2 separate regions of the Homo sapiens genome follow, and region 1 is linked to region 2. A link means that fine-mapping ties the variant in region 2 to the expression of a gene that starts in the linked region. Tissue or cell type: whole blood. Region 2 holds a variant in brackets; the other region holds the start of a gene. All regions are shown on one strand. Distances are between the middles of the regions.

Region 1 (8,166 bases), 33 kb before region 2:
GCAGGGACTGTGCCTTGGAGTGACACTGAGCCTCCCAGCCTGACACGGTGGGCACACAGCTGCCCTGGAAACCCTGTCCACAGATGATCTGCCTCTCCCCCAACTGGGCAGCCTTCCTCTGAGTGCAGCCCAAACATCATTGCTAAGGGCAAGTTTCTTTTTTTGCTGCCTCCACCCACCCAGAGAAACAGGTTAACAAACAGGGACCAGGCAGGGACAGCACAGCCCCAACCTCAAGGCCACTGTCCCCCACATGCTCTGCACACCAGGAACCCCACAGCCAGTGCCACCCCTGACCTTGGTCAGGAGACCCACCCTGCCCTTGTCTTAGCCCAGAGGTAAGAACCCACAACACAGGCTGGGCACGGAGGCTCACACCTGTAATCCCAGCACTTTGGAAGGCCGAGGTGGGCGGATCACCTGAGGTCAGGAGTTCAAGACCAGTCTGGCCAACATGGTGAAACCCCATCGCTACTAAAAATACAAAAATTAGCCAGGCGCAGTGGCAGGTGCCTGTAGTCCCAGCTACTCGGGAGGCTGAGACACAAGAATCATCTGAACCCAAGAGGCAGAGGATGCAGTGAGCTGAGATCGTGCCGCAGCACTCCAGCCTGGGTGACAGAGTGAGACTCCGTCTCAAAAAATAAAAATAAAAATAAAATAATAAAACAACCTGCAAGACAGAGAGGAGGCTTAAGAAAGATCTGTGTGAGTACGGTACTCCCTTCCTGGTTCCCTGGCCCTGGGTTGACCCTATGTGCAGTGACAAGTGAGGCTTGTCACCCCCAGCCCCGGGGACCAAATCTGAACCTGTGCAGTGGGTTAAATAGCATCTCCTCCAAATCCACATTCACCCGAACCCGAGTGTGACCTTGTTTGGAAATGGGGTCTTTGTGAAGTAGGAGGTAGGACCGACTCCAGAGGCAGAGCCCTGACACTGGACCAAACTGAGGACTAGTGAAAACAGGGGTGGACGGGGCAGAAGCAGCATTCCAAAAGACATGCTCAGCAGTGTGCCATGTCAGTTTACCATTGCCATGGCAACGCCTGGGAGTTACCACCGCTTTCCATAGCAATGACCCAATGTCCCAAAAGTTACTACCCCTTCCCTAGAAATGTCTGCATAAACTGCCCCTTAATCTGCATGCAATTAAAGGTGGGTATAAATATGACTGCAAAAGGCCCCGAGCTGCTCCTCAGTACGCTTCCTCTGGCACAGCCCTGCTCTGCAGGAGCTGGCACAGAGCTATAACATCTCTTCAGTAAAGCTGTTTTCTTCTACCACCAGCTTGCCTTGAATTCTCTCCTAGGGAAAGCCAAGAACCCTCGCAGGCTAAGCCCCCTTGGGGGCTCGCCTGTCCTGTGCCACTTACAGGCATTATTAAATGAAGGATGTCAAGATTAGGCCATCCTGGATTTAGGCAGTTCCCTAAATCCAGTGACTAGTGTCCTAGGAAGAAGAGGAGAGGACATAGAGACACACAAAGGGAAAGGCCACGCAAAGACAAAGGGAGATCTGAGTGACTAGGCCACAAGCCAAGGAAGCCAGGAGCCACCAGGAGCTGGAAGAGGCAAGGGAGGCTCCTTCTCGGCACCTTTAGAGGGAACGCAGCCCTGCAGGCACCCTGATCTCACACTTCCGGTCTCCAGAACTGTGAGACGACACATTCCTGTTGCTCTAAGCCACCCGAAGCTTTCTAATTGGTTATGGCAGCCCAACTTCCTCAGCACCCCAGCCCCTGGGCACCAGCCCCCACCTCAATCTGCTGCTCTCCCTCTCCCTCATCCCCCAGCCAGTCTTTGCCTGGTCCTAAGACCCACCCCTCCTGGAGCTTTTTCCCCTCTCCCTTGCTTTTCTTTCTCTCTTTTTCTTTTCTCCTTTTTTTTTTTTTTTTTTTTTTTAAAGACAGGGTCTCACCCTGTTGCCCAGGCTGCAGTGCAGTGATGCGATCCTTGCTACTGCAGCCTCAACCTCCTGGGCTCAAGTGATCCTCCCACCTCAGCCTCCTGAGTAGCTGGGATTACAGATGTATGCCACCACACCTGGCTAATTTTCCTTTTTTTAGAGATGGAGTCTCGCTATGCTGCCCAGCCTGGTTTCAAACTCCTGGCCTCAAGCCGTCCTCCTGCCTTGGCCTCCCACAGTGCTGGGATCACGGGCGTGAGCCACCAGCCCAGCATCCCTTGCCTTTCATTCGCACCTCCACCTCCAGAATGACCCTCATTCCCTCCTGCACAGACGGTGACAGCAGTAACTCCTACAAACACCACCAGACTGATCTTCAAGAGCAGAGGAACTCCCAATCACGATTCCACCCCCGCCGGGCTCTCAAATCCTCCAGGGCTGCCTGCTATGGGGAGGGAGGCACACTTTGCTTGGCTCTCAAGGCCTCAGCCAGCCGGGTCCAAACCAGCTCCCAGCCTGGCCTCACCATCCCACCGCCAAACCTTTGCTCACACTGGCCCCTCTTCCTGGAACATGGGCCTCATGACCCCAGGTCTACCTGTGTGACCACCACCCCACCTTCTAGACCATTTCCAGTAGCCCCTCCCCCATGCTGCACCCCTGCTTCTCATGACCTAGGGGTTTCCAGAACATTGGGTCCAGCTGGGTCCTTCCACCCATCCTTAATGTCCCAACCCTTTGTTGTATATTTCCACAAGGGCCAGGGTGGACCCAACTCTTCTTTCAATCCCTCGCAGGCTCATACCCCAAACCTCCAACAGTTCCTGAGCACTCAACCCTGTGCCAGGCGTTGGAGACAGAGGCACGAGACAGCAAGGTCCTTGTTGTCATGGCAGTGACTCTGCAGTGGGCACGTGGGAGGCACCGGAAAAATGTGTTGAATTTGAGTCAATTGAACTGGATCTTGGAGACTGAGGGGATCTTGGTCTGGCCTCCCAGCCAGCAGGCATAAGAGGCTTCCAGATCCTTTTTTTCCTTTCTGTCCTCATTTCAACTTATTTTTCTTTTTACCAACAGTGTTATCTTTCTGCTTTTTAATTCTGTTCTGTTATGGAGGGAGGGTTGGAGGGGAACAGGCTGCCTTCTCCAGGCATCTGGCTGCTCTTCTGCCGTGGGTCTTGGGTCCCTAGACACTTTCACCAGCCCCTGCCCCCCTCCACCGGCCATACCCAGGACTGGGCCGCTGCTGCCCGCCCGGGGCTCCCCAACACCCACAAGCCTGGAAAGGTGAGATGCTGCCACCTACCCCCAGTGCCTGCCCCGACCTAAGACCACCCTGAGGACCATGCCCACCCAGCCAGAACTGCCCACCCAGCTTGCCCGTCGGAGCCCGAAGTGAGCGGCAGACAGGGCAGACGGCGGCCGTGGGAATCTCAGAGGGTGTCTGCAGTCCGGCTGGGAAGCATCGCAACTTCTCACCAGCAAGAATGCCCTGGTTGCTATGGTTACGGCAGATCCTGGATCTAGGCCAAGGCCTCCCAATGCAGGTCCCTAGGGACCCCCCAGTACTCACAGCGCAGCCAGGTGAAGCCCCGGGGCATGGTGGTGTTCCTCGTCCCCCTGAGAGCTCAGGCGCCGTCCCCAGCAGTGTGTCCACAGAGGCCTAAGCACGGCCTACATGGCCTCGGGGCAGCAGAGGTGGTCACTCAGTCAGGGAAGGGCTGGCCCTGGAGGAGTGGCTGGGCTGCGGGAGTGAGCAGGTGCCCCAAGGGCAGCAGCTGCCCTTATCTGCCCGGCAGCGTGGAGGACAGCCGGGGGGCGGTGGCCGCAAGTCCCATGGCAGCCCAGAAGCAGGTCTGAGCCGGTGGCTTGGGGGTCTTTCGGGGTCTTCCTTTCCAAGGAGCAGGAGGAGAGAGTCCCTGGCAGGCCCCTCGGAATCTGGGGCTGGGTGACGCTTTCTCTGATTTCTCCGACTGCAGCTGCTCAGTGTGAAATCTGGCTCTAGGAAGAGAAAGGAGGAGAGAAACTGATTATGTAAGAGCAGCGCTGCCACTCAGCCATCAGCCACAGCGCACACCGCACCCACGGCCTGCACAGGACCACCCGGCCCTGGCAGCTGGACACGGCTCACGTGAGAAATGACTTCAGGATGTCCGAACGGCCCTGGCCCATGAGTGAGTTATGATGACACCAGCTGGCAGCCTGGGGCCTGAACAAAAGCAGGACCAAGGAATGAACAGGTGGTTTGAGTTCACACATCGAGAGCCATGGTAGAGTCCATGAATGACTCAGGCTAAAGGACAGGTTAAAAAAGCAGACGAGCTCCCACTCCGAAAACAAGCCGGACGCAATGGCTCATGCTTGTAATCCCAGCACTTTGGGAGGCCAAGGTGGGAGGATTGCGTGAGCCCAGGAGTTCGAGACCAGCCTGGTCAGCATAGTAAGACCTCAGTTCTATTAATAAAAAAAAAATTAAGAAAAAAAAAATTTTTTTGAGACGGAGTCTCAGACTCTGTCATCCAGGCTGTAGTGCAGTGGCGTGATTTTGGCTCACTGCAGCCTCCACCTCCAGGGTTCAAGCAATTCTCCTGCTTCAGCCTCCCAAGTAGCTGGGATTACAGATGTGCACTACCATGCCTGGCTAATTTTTGTATTTTTAGTAGAGATGGGGTTTCACCATGTTGGCCAGGCTAGTCTCAAACTCCTGGACTCAAGTGATCTGCTGTCTTGGCCTCCCAAAGTGCTGGGATTACAGGCGTGAGCCACCGCACCCGGCCAGGACTAAGGTCTTTACATTCACTGAATCTCTCACAACAATCTCATGGAAGTGCAAAATCTCAGTTTATCAATGAGGAAACTGAGGCCCAGAAAGGTTAAGACACTTGTCCAAGGTCATACGGCTTGTAAGAAGTGTGACAGGAATTCAAACCCTGTGGGCTGGTGGCTGCTCCCAAAATTCGACAACCACACAGGGCTCAGCGTGTGTGCGTGGTCCTCCCATCTGCCCCTCTGGACTCTGCAAGGTCTGGACCATTGTGTCTGCTCTGCAGATCAGGCTGGAATTCCGTCTCTGATTTAGTTCTCTTCCATCCCCTCGCCTCCTCCCTGTCTCCCCTCTGGTGGGGGAAAATGGCTACAGAGTGACACCATCGGGGGAGAGCAGGTATGACTTGGGCATCTTCTTCATTGTGTGATCCATGGTGTCACCAAAGAATGCTGGCCCTTACCCTAAGAGGTGCCCAGCAGGCAGGCAGGGCCTTATAGAGAGAACACGGGTTGTTCAAGTTAATCCCTTATGCAGTCACCCTGAATCTCAGCCCCAGTCGCTGCCTGCTGCTGCTCCTCTTTTCCTTGTCCTTCCTCCTTTTCCTCCTTCCTCTTCCTCCTTCTCTTCCTCCTCCTCCTTCCTCGTCTTCCTCCTTCCTCCCTCTTCTTCCTCCTCTTTCCCCCTCCTCCTTCCTACTCTTCCCTCTTCCTTTCTCCTTCCTTCTCTTCCTCCTTCCTCGTCCTCCTTCCTTTTTCCTTCTCCTCCTTCCTCCTCTTCCTCTTCTTCCTCCTTCCTCCTACTCCCTTTCTCTTCCTCCTTCCTCCTCCTCTTCCTCCTTCCTCCTCTTCCTCCTTCCTCCTCCTTCTCCTCCCTCCTCTTCCTCCTTCCTCTTCCACCTCCTTCCTCTTCCTACTTCCTCCTCTTCCTCCTCTTCCCTCCTTCCTCTTCCTCCTTCCTCCTCCCTTCCTCCTTTTCATTCCTCCTCCCTCCTCCTTTTCCTCCCTCCTCCCTCCTCCTTTTCCTCCCTCCTCCCTCCTCCTCTTCCTCTTCCCCCTCCCCCTCCTCCTCCCCCTCCTCCTCCTCCTCACCCTGGCAATTCCCCTGCTGTTACAGCATCACTACAAACACTAACGTATCTAGAACATTTAGTTGTCATTAGTTTGGGGATTTTTTTCAGGTTTATTGAGGGCTAATTTACATATACTACATTTTACCCTTTTCAGTATACATTTCTAAAAGTTTTTAGCACATTTATAGAGCTGTGTAATTACTATAATAATCAAGATACAAAACATTTCCATCTACCCAAAAAATTCATTCCTTTATAGTGGAAGTTGTCTAAACAAACTGAAACAAGGTAGAATAGTATAACAGACCCCCATATAGCAGTTACTCAGATTCAAAAATTGTCAATCTGGCTGGGTGCAGTGTCTCACACCTGTAATCCCAGCACTTTGGGAGGCCGAGGCGGGTGAATCAGTTGAGGCAGAATAAACTCCAAGGAGAAGGGGAAAAAACAACTTCAAATACCAATAGAAAAACAAAAAAGTTATTTCCACAGAGTTGTCCATAAAAGGTCAGGACTTTGAGACCAGCCTGGCCAACATGGTGAAACCCTGTCTCTACTAAAAATACAAAAATTAGCCAGGTGTGGTGGTGCATGCCTGTAATCCCAGCTACTCAGGAGGCTGAGGCAGCAGAATCACTGGAACCCAGGAGGCGGAGGTTGCAGTGAGCCAAGATTGCTCCACTGCCCTCCAGTCGGGGCAACAGAGCGAGATTCTGTCTCAAAACAAAAGAAAAAAATGATCACTCTTCTGTCATTCCAGCTTCACTCATCCCCCAATTTTTTTTTCCAGGAATATTTTAAAGCAAATCTCAAACATGCCATTTCACCAGCATGTAGGGATTTTTAAAATATATAATCACAATATTGTCATCACACAACCCTCAAATTAATAACTCTTTAATATGATTTCATATAGAATCCACGTTCAATTTTCCCTGGTTATTTTTTAAATCTCTGATGTGCATCTTAAGTCTTTTTTCTTTTTAAAAATCAATATATAATTTGCATGCCATAAAATTTACCATTTTAAAGTGTACAGGCTGCGTGTGATGGCTCACACTTGTAATCCCAGCACCTTGGGAGGCCAAGGCCGGGGGATCGCTTCAGCCCAGGGCTTTGAGACCAGCCCGGGCAACATAGTGAGAACCCGTATCTACCAACAAAAATTTTTTTAATTAGGTGGGTGTAGTGGCACGGGCCTGTGGTCCCAGCTACTTGGGAGGCTGAGATGGGAGGATCACTTGAGCCAGGGAGGTCAAGGCTGCAGTGAACCATGATCACGCCACTGCACTCCAGCATGGGTGACAAAGCAAGACCCTGTCTCAAAATAAATAAATAAAGTGTGCAACAGCCAGGTGCAGTGGCTCACTCCTGTCATCCCTGCAGTTTGGGAGGCCAAGGCAGGTGGATCACCTGAGGTCAGGGATTCGAGACCAGCCTGGCCAATATGGCAAAACCCTATCTCTACTAAACATACAAAAGATTAGCCAGGCACGGTGGTGCGCACCTGTAATCCCAGCTACTCAGGAGGCTGAGGCAGGAGAATCACTTGAACCCGGGAGGCAGAGGTTGCAGTGAGCCGAGGTAGTCCCACTGCACTCCAGCCTGGGTGACAGAGTGAGATCCGTCTCAAAAATAAATAAAAATAAATAAAAATAAATAATAAAGTGTACAACTTTGTGGGTTTTTAGTGTACTAAGTTGTGCAACAGTCACCATTATTTAATTACAGAACATTTTCATCACCCCCAAAATAAACTCTGAACTCATTAGCAGTCACCCCCTATTCCCTCTTCCTCCCAGCCCCTGGCAGCCACTAATATTCTTTCTGTCTCTATGGATTTGCCTATTCTGGACATTTCATATAAATGGGATTGATTATGCAATACGGGACCTTTCATGTCTGGCTTCTTTCACTTAGCATGTTTTCAGGGTTCATTCATTTTGTAGCATGTTATGAACTGAATGTTTGTGTCTCTCCAAAATACATGTGTTGAAGTTGTAACCCCTAATGTGGTGGTTCCTGGAGATGAGGCCTTGGGAGATAATTAGGTTTGGATGAGGTCACAAGGATGGGGTCCTTATGGTGGGATAATGCCTTTATAAGAAAAGAAATCAGGCCGGGCTCAGTGGCTCACGCCTGTAATCCCAGCACTTTGGGAGCCCAAGGCGGGAGGATCACAAGGTAAGGAGTTCAAGACAAGCCTGACCAACATGGTGAAACACCGTCTCCACTAAAAATACAAAAATTAGGCGGGCGCAGTGGCAGGTGCCTGTAATCCCAGCTACTCAGGAGGCTGAGGCAGGAGAATCGCTTGAACTCAGAGGGCAAAGTTTGCAGTGAGCCGAGATCATGCCACTGCACTCCAGCCTGGGTAACAGAGTGAGACTCCGTCTCAAAAAAAAAAAAAAAAAAAAAGACATC
Region 2 (8,160 bases):
TTCCCACCTCTATACAGTCTGATAACAGACGAGCCTTTATTAGTCAAATCAGCCAAGCAGTTTTTCAGGCTCTTAGTATTCAGTGAAACCTTTATATCCCTTACGGTCCTCCGTCTTCAAGAAAAGTAGAATGGACTAAAGGTCTTTTAAAAACACACCTCACCAAGCTCAGCCACCAACTTAAAAAGGACTGGACAATACTTTTACCACTTTCCCTTCTCAGAATTCAGGCCTGTCTTCGGAATGCTACAGGGGGTACAGCCCATTTAAGCTCCTGTATAGACGCTCCTTTTTATTAGGCCCCAGTCTCATTCCAGACACCAGACCAACTTAGACTGTGCCCCAAAAAAACTTGTCATCCCTACTATCTTCTGTCTAGTCATACTCCTATTCTCCGTTCTCAACTACTCATACATGCCCTGCTCTTGTTTACACTGCCGGTTTACACAGTTTCTCCAAGCCATCACAGCTGATATCTCCTCGTGCTATCCCCAAACTGCCACTCTTAACTCTTGAAGTAAATAAATAATCTTTGCTGGCAGGACTATACTGAATCTCCTTAGGCACTCTCTAATCAGATGTCCTAGGTCTTCCCAATTCTTAGACCTTTTATACCGGTTTTTCTCCTTCTCTTATTCCATTTAGTTTTTCAATTCATACAAAATCATATCCAGGCCATCACCAATAATTCTACACAACAAATGTTTCTTCTAACAACCCCACAATATCACCCCTTACCACAAAATCTTCCTTCAGCTTAATCTCTCCCACTCTAGGTTCCCACGCCACCCCTAATCCTGCTTGAAGCAACCCTGAGAAACATCGCCCACTCTCTCTCCATACCACCCCCCAAAAATTTTCGCCGCCCCAGGACTTCAACACTATTTTGATTTTTCTTATTAATATAAGGCGGCAGGAATGTCAGGCCTCTGAGCCCAAGCCAAGCCATCGCATCCCCTGTGACTTGCACGTATACATCCAGATGGCCTGAAGTAACTGAAGATCCACAAAAGAAGTAAAAATAGCCTTAACTGATGACATTCCACCATTGTGATTTGTTCCTGCCCCACCTAACTGATCAATGTACTTTGTAATCTCCCCCACCCTTAAGCAGGTTGTTTGTAATTCTCCCCACCCTTGAGAATGTACTGTGTGAGATCCACCCCTGCCCGCAAAACATTGCTCTTAACTTCACCGCCTATCCCAAAACCTATAAGAACTAATGATAATCCAGCACGCTTTGCTGACTCTCTTTTCGGACTCAGCCCGCCTGCACCCAGGTGAAATAAACAGACATGTTGCTCACAAAAAAATAAATAAATAAAATAAGCAAAACAATATGAGTAAGACGGTCATAGAAAAATACATAGGCCTTAAACACATTATAAATTAAAATTTTTTCATAACAAATTTAAATTAAGACTACATTGAGTCACTGTTTTTCACCTATCAGATTGGTAAAAATCCAATGATATAAATCCAATTTAATGTGTTGGCAATGATGCGGGCAAACTAATTTTTCATCCAAAGCTGATGGAAGTGCAAATTGGTATTAACCTTATGGAGTGGAAATTGGCAATATCTCTCAAATCACAAATGCAGATACTTAGCAATGCCGTTTCTGGGAATTTATCCTGCATATACAGTATGCACCTGCAACAGGCCACGTGTATGAGATTTTTCATCTCATCAGCGTCTGTGATAGCAGATGGTATAACCTGCATGTTCACCACACAGTAGTATAGCATGATAGATTCAGTAAAACAAGCAAGACACTGAATGGTGTGTTTTCTATGTTGGAAGCTGTGTTCAGCAGAGGTGGCAAAGCTTTTATCTATAAATATCTGTGGAAGGAGTTTGAGGGGGGACGGATTTTTTTATTGAGACAGGATCTCAATCTGTCACCCACGCTGGAGTGCAGTGGTGCCATCTCAGCTTGCCACAACCTCCACTGCCTGGGCTCAAGAGATCCTCCCACCTCAGTCTTCCGAGTAGCTGAGACCACGGGTGTGCACCACCACACTCAGCTAATTTTTTGTATTTTTGGTAGAGATGGGATTTCACTGTGTTGCCCAGGCTGGTTTCAAACTCCTAAGCTCAAGTGATTTGCCCCACCTCAGACTCCCAAAGTGCTGAGATTACAGGCACGTGCCACTGCGCCTGGCACTTTCATCTACCTATATCTATATCTATATATTTGTATATGCTTGCATTTGCATAAAGTGAACATATTAGAATAATTCACACTAAAGCGTGAAAGATTGGCAACTCAGACACCTTTCAGAGACAGTGTATCTTTATTTTATTTATTTATTTATTTATTTATTTTGAGACGGAGTCTTGCTCTGTTGCCAGGCTGGAGTGCAGTGGCGCAATCTCGGCTTACTGCAACCTCCACCTCCCAGGTTCAAGCAATTCTCCTGCCTCAACCTCCTGAGTAGCTGGGACTACAGGTGAGCACCACCACGCCCAGCTAATTTTTGTACTTTTAGTAGAGACGGGGTTTCACCATGTTAGCCAGAATGGTTTCGATCTCTTGACCTCTTGATCCACCCACCTCGGCCTCCCAAAGTGCTGGGATTACAGGCGTGAGCCACCACACCTGGCCAGTGTATCTTTAAAAGAAGATGTTTGTTAACCCAAATAAGTCTAGAATTCGATGGACTTTTTGTCAGGGTAGTAAAATAAGTTGCAAAAATGCATACACCGTAAGTCCAGAGATTTGGGGGGTAACAGGGGAGCCATAGATCAGGAGTTTCTGTTTTCCTGAGGATCAGCTCTAATTAGATTAGACCCAATAAAATATAAACAGTTACCCGGTGAGGCCGGTTATGGGACAGGAGCAGGAAGAAAACTCTTTGCTATAGTTCTATTTTACATGATGTTGAAACCGTATGAGTTTATTCTCTAATCAAAATACTAAGCAGTAAAACAGAGGAGTTGCAGTTCATCAGCTCCTGAGCCTTGGGCAAGACCTACAAGATCTACCCCAGCTCCTGTTCCAACAGAGCCTCTGTCATTTATAATCAAGGAACAAATATTTACAAGAAGTTTTATCACCTGTAACAGCTCACTGACACTTGCCAGAAATGCTTTATGTGAATATTGCTATTGCAAGACACTGTGAGACACAAAGAGTGTAGGCAATTCACATAACTTCCCTTAAAACCCAGTTATCTCTTAGGCAGAGCAAAGA[T/C]AAGGACAAACAACATCATGAAATTGCTGTGAAAGGCAAGTGTGTGCACATTTCTGAAAGCAGCACAAAAACAAAACAGGTTCCGTGTTCAGCAGCTGCACCACAGCTAAACCTCGGCTCCCATCACTGTTGAATCTGAGCTTCCATGCTTCTCAAACCTCAGCGGGCTTAAGAACCACCTGGAGAGGCTGTTAAAAAACACAGGCTCCAGGCCCCTCCCTCAGACATACAATTCAGTAGGTCAGGGGCCCATGAACTTGCATTTCCAGCATGCTTTGTCTCTCGGATGACACTGATGGGGTGGTGCAAGGACCACATTTGAGGAGTCTGCTCCAAAGAAGGGTTCCTCAAACTGTGCCATACAGACACATTACCTGGAATCTTGTTAAAATATAGACTCACTCAGAAAGTCTGGGGTAGGGCCTGGGATACTGCACTTCTTTTTTTTTTTTTTTGAGACAGGGTTTTGCTCCATTGCCCAGGCTGGAGTGCAGGGGCATGATCACAGCTCACAACAGCCTCAGACTCCTGGGTTCAAGCAGTCCTCCCACCTCAGCCTCCTGAGTAGCTGGGGCTACAGGCGTGCACCACCACGCCTGGATAATTTTTTTTTTTAAGAGACAAAGCCTTGTTGTATTGCCCAGGCTGGTCTCAAACTCCTGGCCTCAAGCAATCCTCCTGCCTCAGCCTCCCAGAGCACTGGGATTACAGGGGTGAGCCACCGTGCCTGGCTGGACTCTGCATTTCTTTCTTTTTTTTTTTCCTGAGACAGAGTCTCACTCTGTCACCCAGGCTGGAGTACAGTGGCGCAACCTCAGCTCACTGCAACCTCCACCTCCCAGGATCAAGCAATCCTCCTGCCTCAGCTTCCCAAGTAGCTGGGACTACAGGTGCACGCCACCATGCCTGGCTAATTTTTGTATTTTTAGTAGAGATAGGGTTTCACTGTGCTGGCCAGGCTGGTTTTGAGCTCCTGACCTCTGGTGATCCACCCACCGCAGCCTCCCAAAGTGTTGGGATTACAGGTGTGAGCCACCACTCCTGGCTGGACTCTGCATTTCTGACAAGCTCCCAGGTGCTGCAGATACCACTGGTCTGCAGACCACACTTTGAGTACCAAGGTTCCGGAATAGCCAACTCCAGTTGTTTCACAGATGAGGAAACTGCGCCTTGGAAAAGGTAAGTGACTTGCCAAGGGCACTTGTACAGTAAGGGTGGAGACCAGGTGAGGCCCCATCCAGTGTGGCCGCCATGCCTCAGGAAACCGCCCCGCTCCAACCCCATGTCCCCAGTCTACGCTACAAGCCTGCCTGAGCCAAGAAGGGATGCCAGCCCTTCAGAACATGGCATGGAAATTTACTAAATCATGCACAGTCCTTCACTCTCCGGAGAAATAAACCACTTACCAGGGAGATTAGTTCAAACCACCAGCCTCTGCAAAAATACACTTCTCACAAAATTATTTTTTCAGTTGCGTCACCTTCACTTCCAGTGACACCCCTTCGACCGGCCCTGCTGTGGGAACCTGAAGAAGACGACATGCATTTCTCAACAGATGTGGTCTGAGGCCGGGCACAGTGGCTCAGGCCTGTAATCCCAGCACTTTGGGAGGCCAAGGCAGGCAGATCATTTGAGGTCAGGAGTTCGAGACCAGCCTGGCCAACACAGTGAAGCCCCGCCTCTACTAAACATATAAAAATTAGCTGGGCGTGGTGATCCCAGCTACTTGGGAGGCTGAGGCAGGAGAATCGCTTTAACCGGGGAGGCAGAGGTTGCAGTGAGTTGAGATTGTACCACTGGACTCCACCCTGGGCAATAGAGTGAGACTCTGTCTCAAAACAAACAAAAAACATGTGTTCTAATTGGGAGAAGCAGAAATGGGGGTGGGGAAGCTGATCTTGGGGAAGCTGAGGAATCCCTCCTGAGCCCCAAAGGCTCCAGATTTACACTGTGTGCGTTTTTCCAACTCACTTTATACCTGTCAAAAAGTCCCTTCAATTAGAGATTGATGTGGGTTAACAAGCACTTTCTTTTCAGGATGCATTGCTTCTGGGAGGGTTCTGAGCTGACAATCTTTCACACTTTAGTGTGAATCATTCTAATACAGAGGTAAAGGGAGCAGAATTCAGGAAACTAAAGTCTCTGGAGTAATTACGGCAGAGTGGGCCTTACCTGAGATCCAGAGCTTCATCTGGGAGCACAGCCTTGGATGAACCACAGCTTGGGCCTTGGCCTCTGCACCGTATTCCAGCTTGGGCCTTGGCCTCTGCACCATACTCACCATTCACCAGCAGATCCCCCTAGCCCCCAGCCCCCAGCCCCCAGTGCTTTCAGGCTGTGAGTAGTTTGTGGGCCTGGCTCTGCCAATAACTTGCTATGTGACTTGAGGAAATCACACAGCTTTAGAGACTCTTAAAGCTGGAAGGAAAAGCCCCCAGGGGTCAGCTGGTTCCATGATCCCAGAACCCCGATTTCTAGACTACAGAACACACAGCCCCTATCGGCCTGTTGGAGGCTGGCTCTCCTGGAAGCAGAGCCTGAGACAGGCTTTGGGCTTCACATGATTAATGAAGGGAGGGAACCTCAAGACAGAAGGCTATCTTTTATTTTTACACAGGGTCTCACTGTATTGCCCAGGCTGGAGTGCAGAGGTGCAATCATGGCTCACTGCATCCTTGACCTCCTGGGCTCAGGCAATCCTCCAATCTCAAGCAATCCTCCTGCTCCTCCCGAAGAGCTGGGACCACAGGTGTTTGTCACCACATCCAGCTATTTATTTATTTATTTATTTATTTAAGACAGAGTCTTGCTCTGTCACCCAGGCTGCAGTGCAGTGGTGTGATCTCGGCTCACTGCAACCTCTGCCTCTTGGGTTCCAGCGATTCTCCTGTCTCAGCCTCCGGAGTAGCTGGGATTACAGGTGCCTGCCACCATGCCCAGCTAATTTTTGTATTTTTAGTAGAAACGGGGTTTCACCATGTTGGTCAGGCTGGTAACTTTTTTAAATTTTGTGTAGATATGGGGTCTTACCATGTTGCCCCAGGCTAGTCTCAAACCCCTGAGCTCAAGCGATCCACCTGCCTCAGCCTCCCAAAGAGCTGGGATTACAGGTGTGAGCCACTGCACCCAGCCCGAAGGCTGTTTTTAAATAGCACCACAGTGTTGTTCTATTTGAGGCAAAGAGGTCAGGCTTTTGCACCCCTAATTCAGTCAGTGGCCCCCCTGCAGGTGTAGAATGGTATAAACTCCCAGGTATCTCCAGCAAGGTGGCGGGGAGAAGGACACAAATCTGCCGTACCTGGCAGCCCCTCCCCCTTCACAGCAACTAGGAAGTGGATACAAGAGCGAGTTCAGGCAATCTGGGGGCACCAACCCTTCCTTCCAGTTCCAAGAGCCTCTCACATGTGTTTCAAAATACAAAGCCCCTGAGCACAGGAGTTCGAGACCAGCCTGGGCAACATGGAGAAACCCATCTCTACTAAAAACAGAAAAATTAGACAGGCGTGGTGGTGCGCACCTGTAGTCTCGGCTACTCAGGAGGCTGAGGCGGGAGGACTGCCTGAACCAGGGACATGGAGGTTGCAGTGAGCTGAGATTGTGCCAGGCCACTGTGCTCCGGCCTGGGCCACAGAGCAAGACCCTGTCTCAAACAACAACAAAAAGAAGAAAGAAAGAAGAAGCCCCCAAAATCACAAAGGATGGAAGGGGGGGAAAGAACGCAAGCAGTTTTTTCATTTCCAGAAGAATCTTGGAATCTGCCCTCAGAATCAACCCTAACTGCTCTCCGTGGCTTCCCGGCAGGCTTGAGGGGGCCCCTCCTTCCTCCTCACCCTAGCTTCACCCACTGTCCCGCACCGACGGCTACTCCCTGAGGACTTTGCCTTATCTCTTCCTGGAATATTCCACAAGAGATTTCTCCCCAGCTGGTTTCTTCTTGTCAGCTCAAACATCACCTCCGTAGAGATGCCTTCTCTGGCCACCAGGCCACCCCTGTCACTCCCTCTGCGGCACTTTCCACACAGCACTGGCCACTCGACATTATCCTAACTGCATTCAGTTGTGTGTTGTGTGTCGTTCTCCCCACAGGAATGACCACAGGGTCTGGGGACAGAGCCTGGTTCTGGTGTCATCATTGTGTCCTCAGGGCCTGGCACCTGCTTGACACATAGGAAACTCTATAACTTCTGGCAAATCATAGCTGAGTGAATGAACTGGACACATGGGCCAGATGCCAAAATTCCAGCAGAGAAGGAGAACTGGGTCAACTGAACACTCGGCACTCCCAGACGCTGGAGGAAAACAGGCACAAGACTAGGATGGGGATGAAGGAGAGAATCCACCAAGAGTTTTCTTGGCCCTTTGATTCCTCCCTCCTCTCCCAGATCCCTCTCTCAGCTCCTACCTTGGAAAAACGTTCACTTTTTTTTTTTTTTTTCTGAGATAGAGTCTCGCTCTTTCGCCCAGGCTGGAGTGGAGTGGCGCAATCTTGGCTCACTGCAACCTCCACCTCCCAGGTTCAAGTGATTCTCCTGCCTCAGCCTCCAGAGTGGCTGGGATTACAGGCGCCCGCCACCACACCTGGCTAATTTTTGTATTTTTAGTAGAGACGGTTTCGCCGTGTTGGCCAGGCTGGTCTCAAACTCCAGACCTCAGGTGATCCACCTGCCTTGGCCTCCCAAAGTGCTGGGATTACAGGCATGAGCCACCACGTCCAGCCTGACATTCACATTTTAAATGGTGCAAACCTCTCAAAACATCCAGAGGCATCTGGGTTCCAATTCTAGCTATAGATCTGAGTTTCTCTCTCCCCACTGGCACCTGCAAGAGGCACAGTGACCATGCCAGCCTCATGGGGTTGCTGAAAGCACTGGCCTCATGGGTAATATCACTCACTCAGGAACAGGCCTCTGCAAATTGAAACCAAGGCAGGATAAATCCCTACCCCTCAGAGCAGCCATACACCT

What was found. PIP is the estimated chance that this variant, and not a neighbour inherited with it, causes the effect.
Region 1: IL34 starts here. The variant in region 2 is fine-mapped to the expression of IL34 in whole blood (TOPMed, PIP above 0.99).

What each region holds. Positions count from the first base shown.
Region 1 is chr16:70,642,289-70,650,454 of GRCh38, reverse strand. IL34 (interleukin 34) reads right to left here and starts at 3,896. Exons shown (of 6, transcript NM_001393494.1): 1 at 3,480-3,896. The coding sequence starts at 3,507. RefSeq lists an enhancer at 164-664.
Region 2 is chr16:70,609,675-70,617,834 of GRCh38, reverse strand. It overlaps a transcript of IL34 not described here. Among named protein-coding and RNA genes, the nearest start is that of IL34, 33 kb to the left of the region's middle. The variant T/C (reference allele first, on the strand shown) is at 3,197.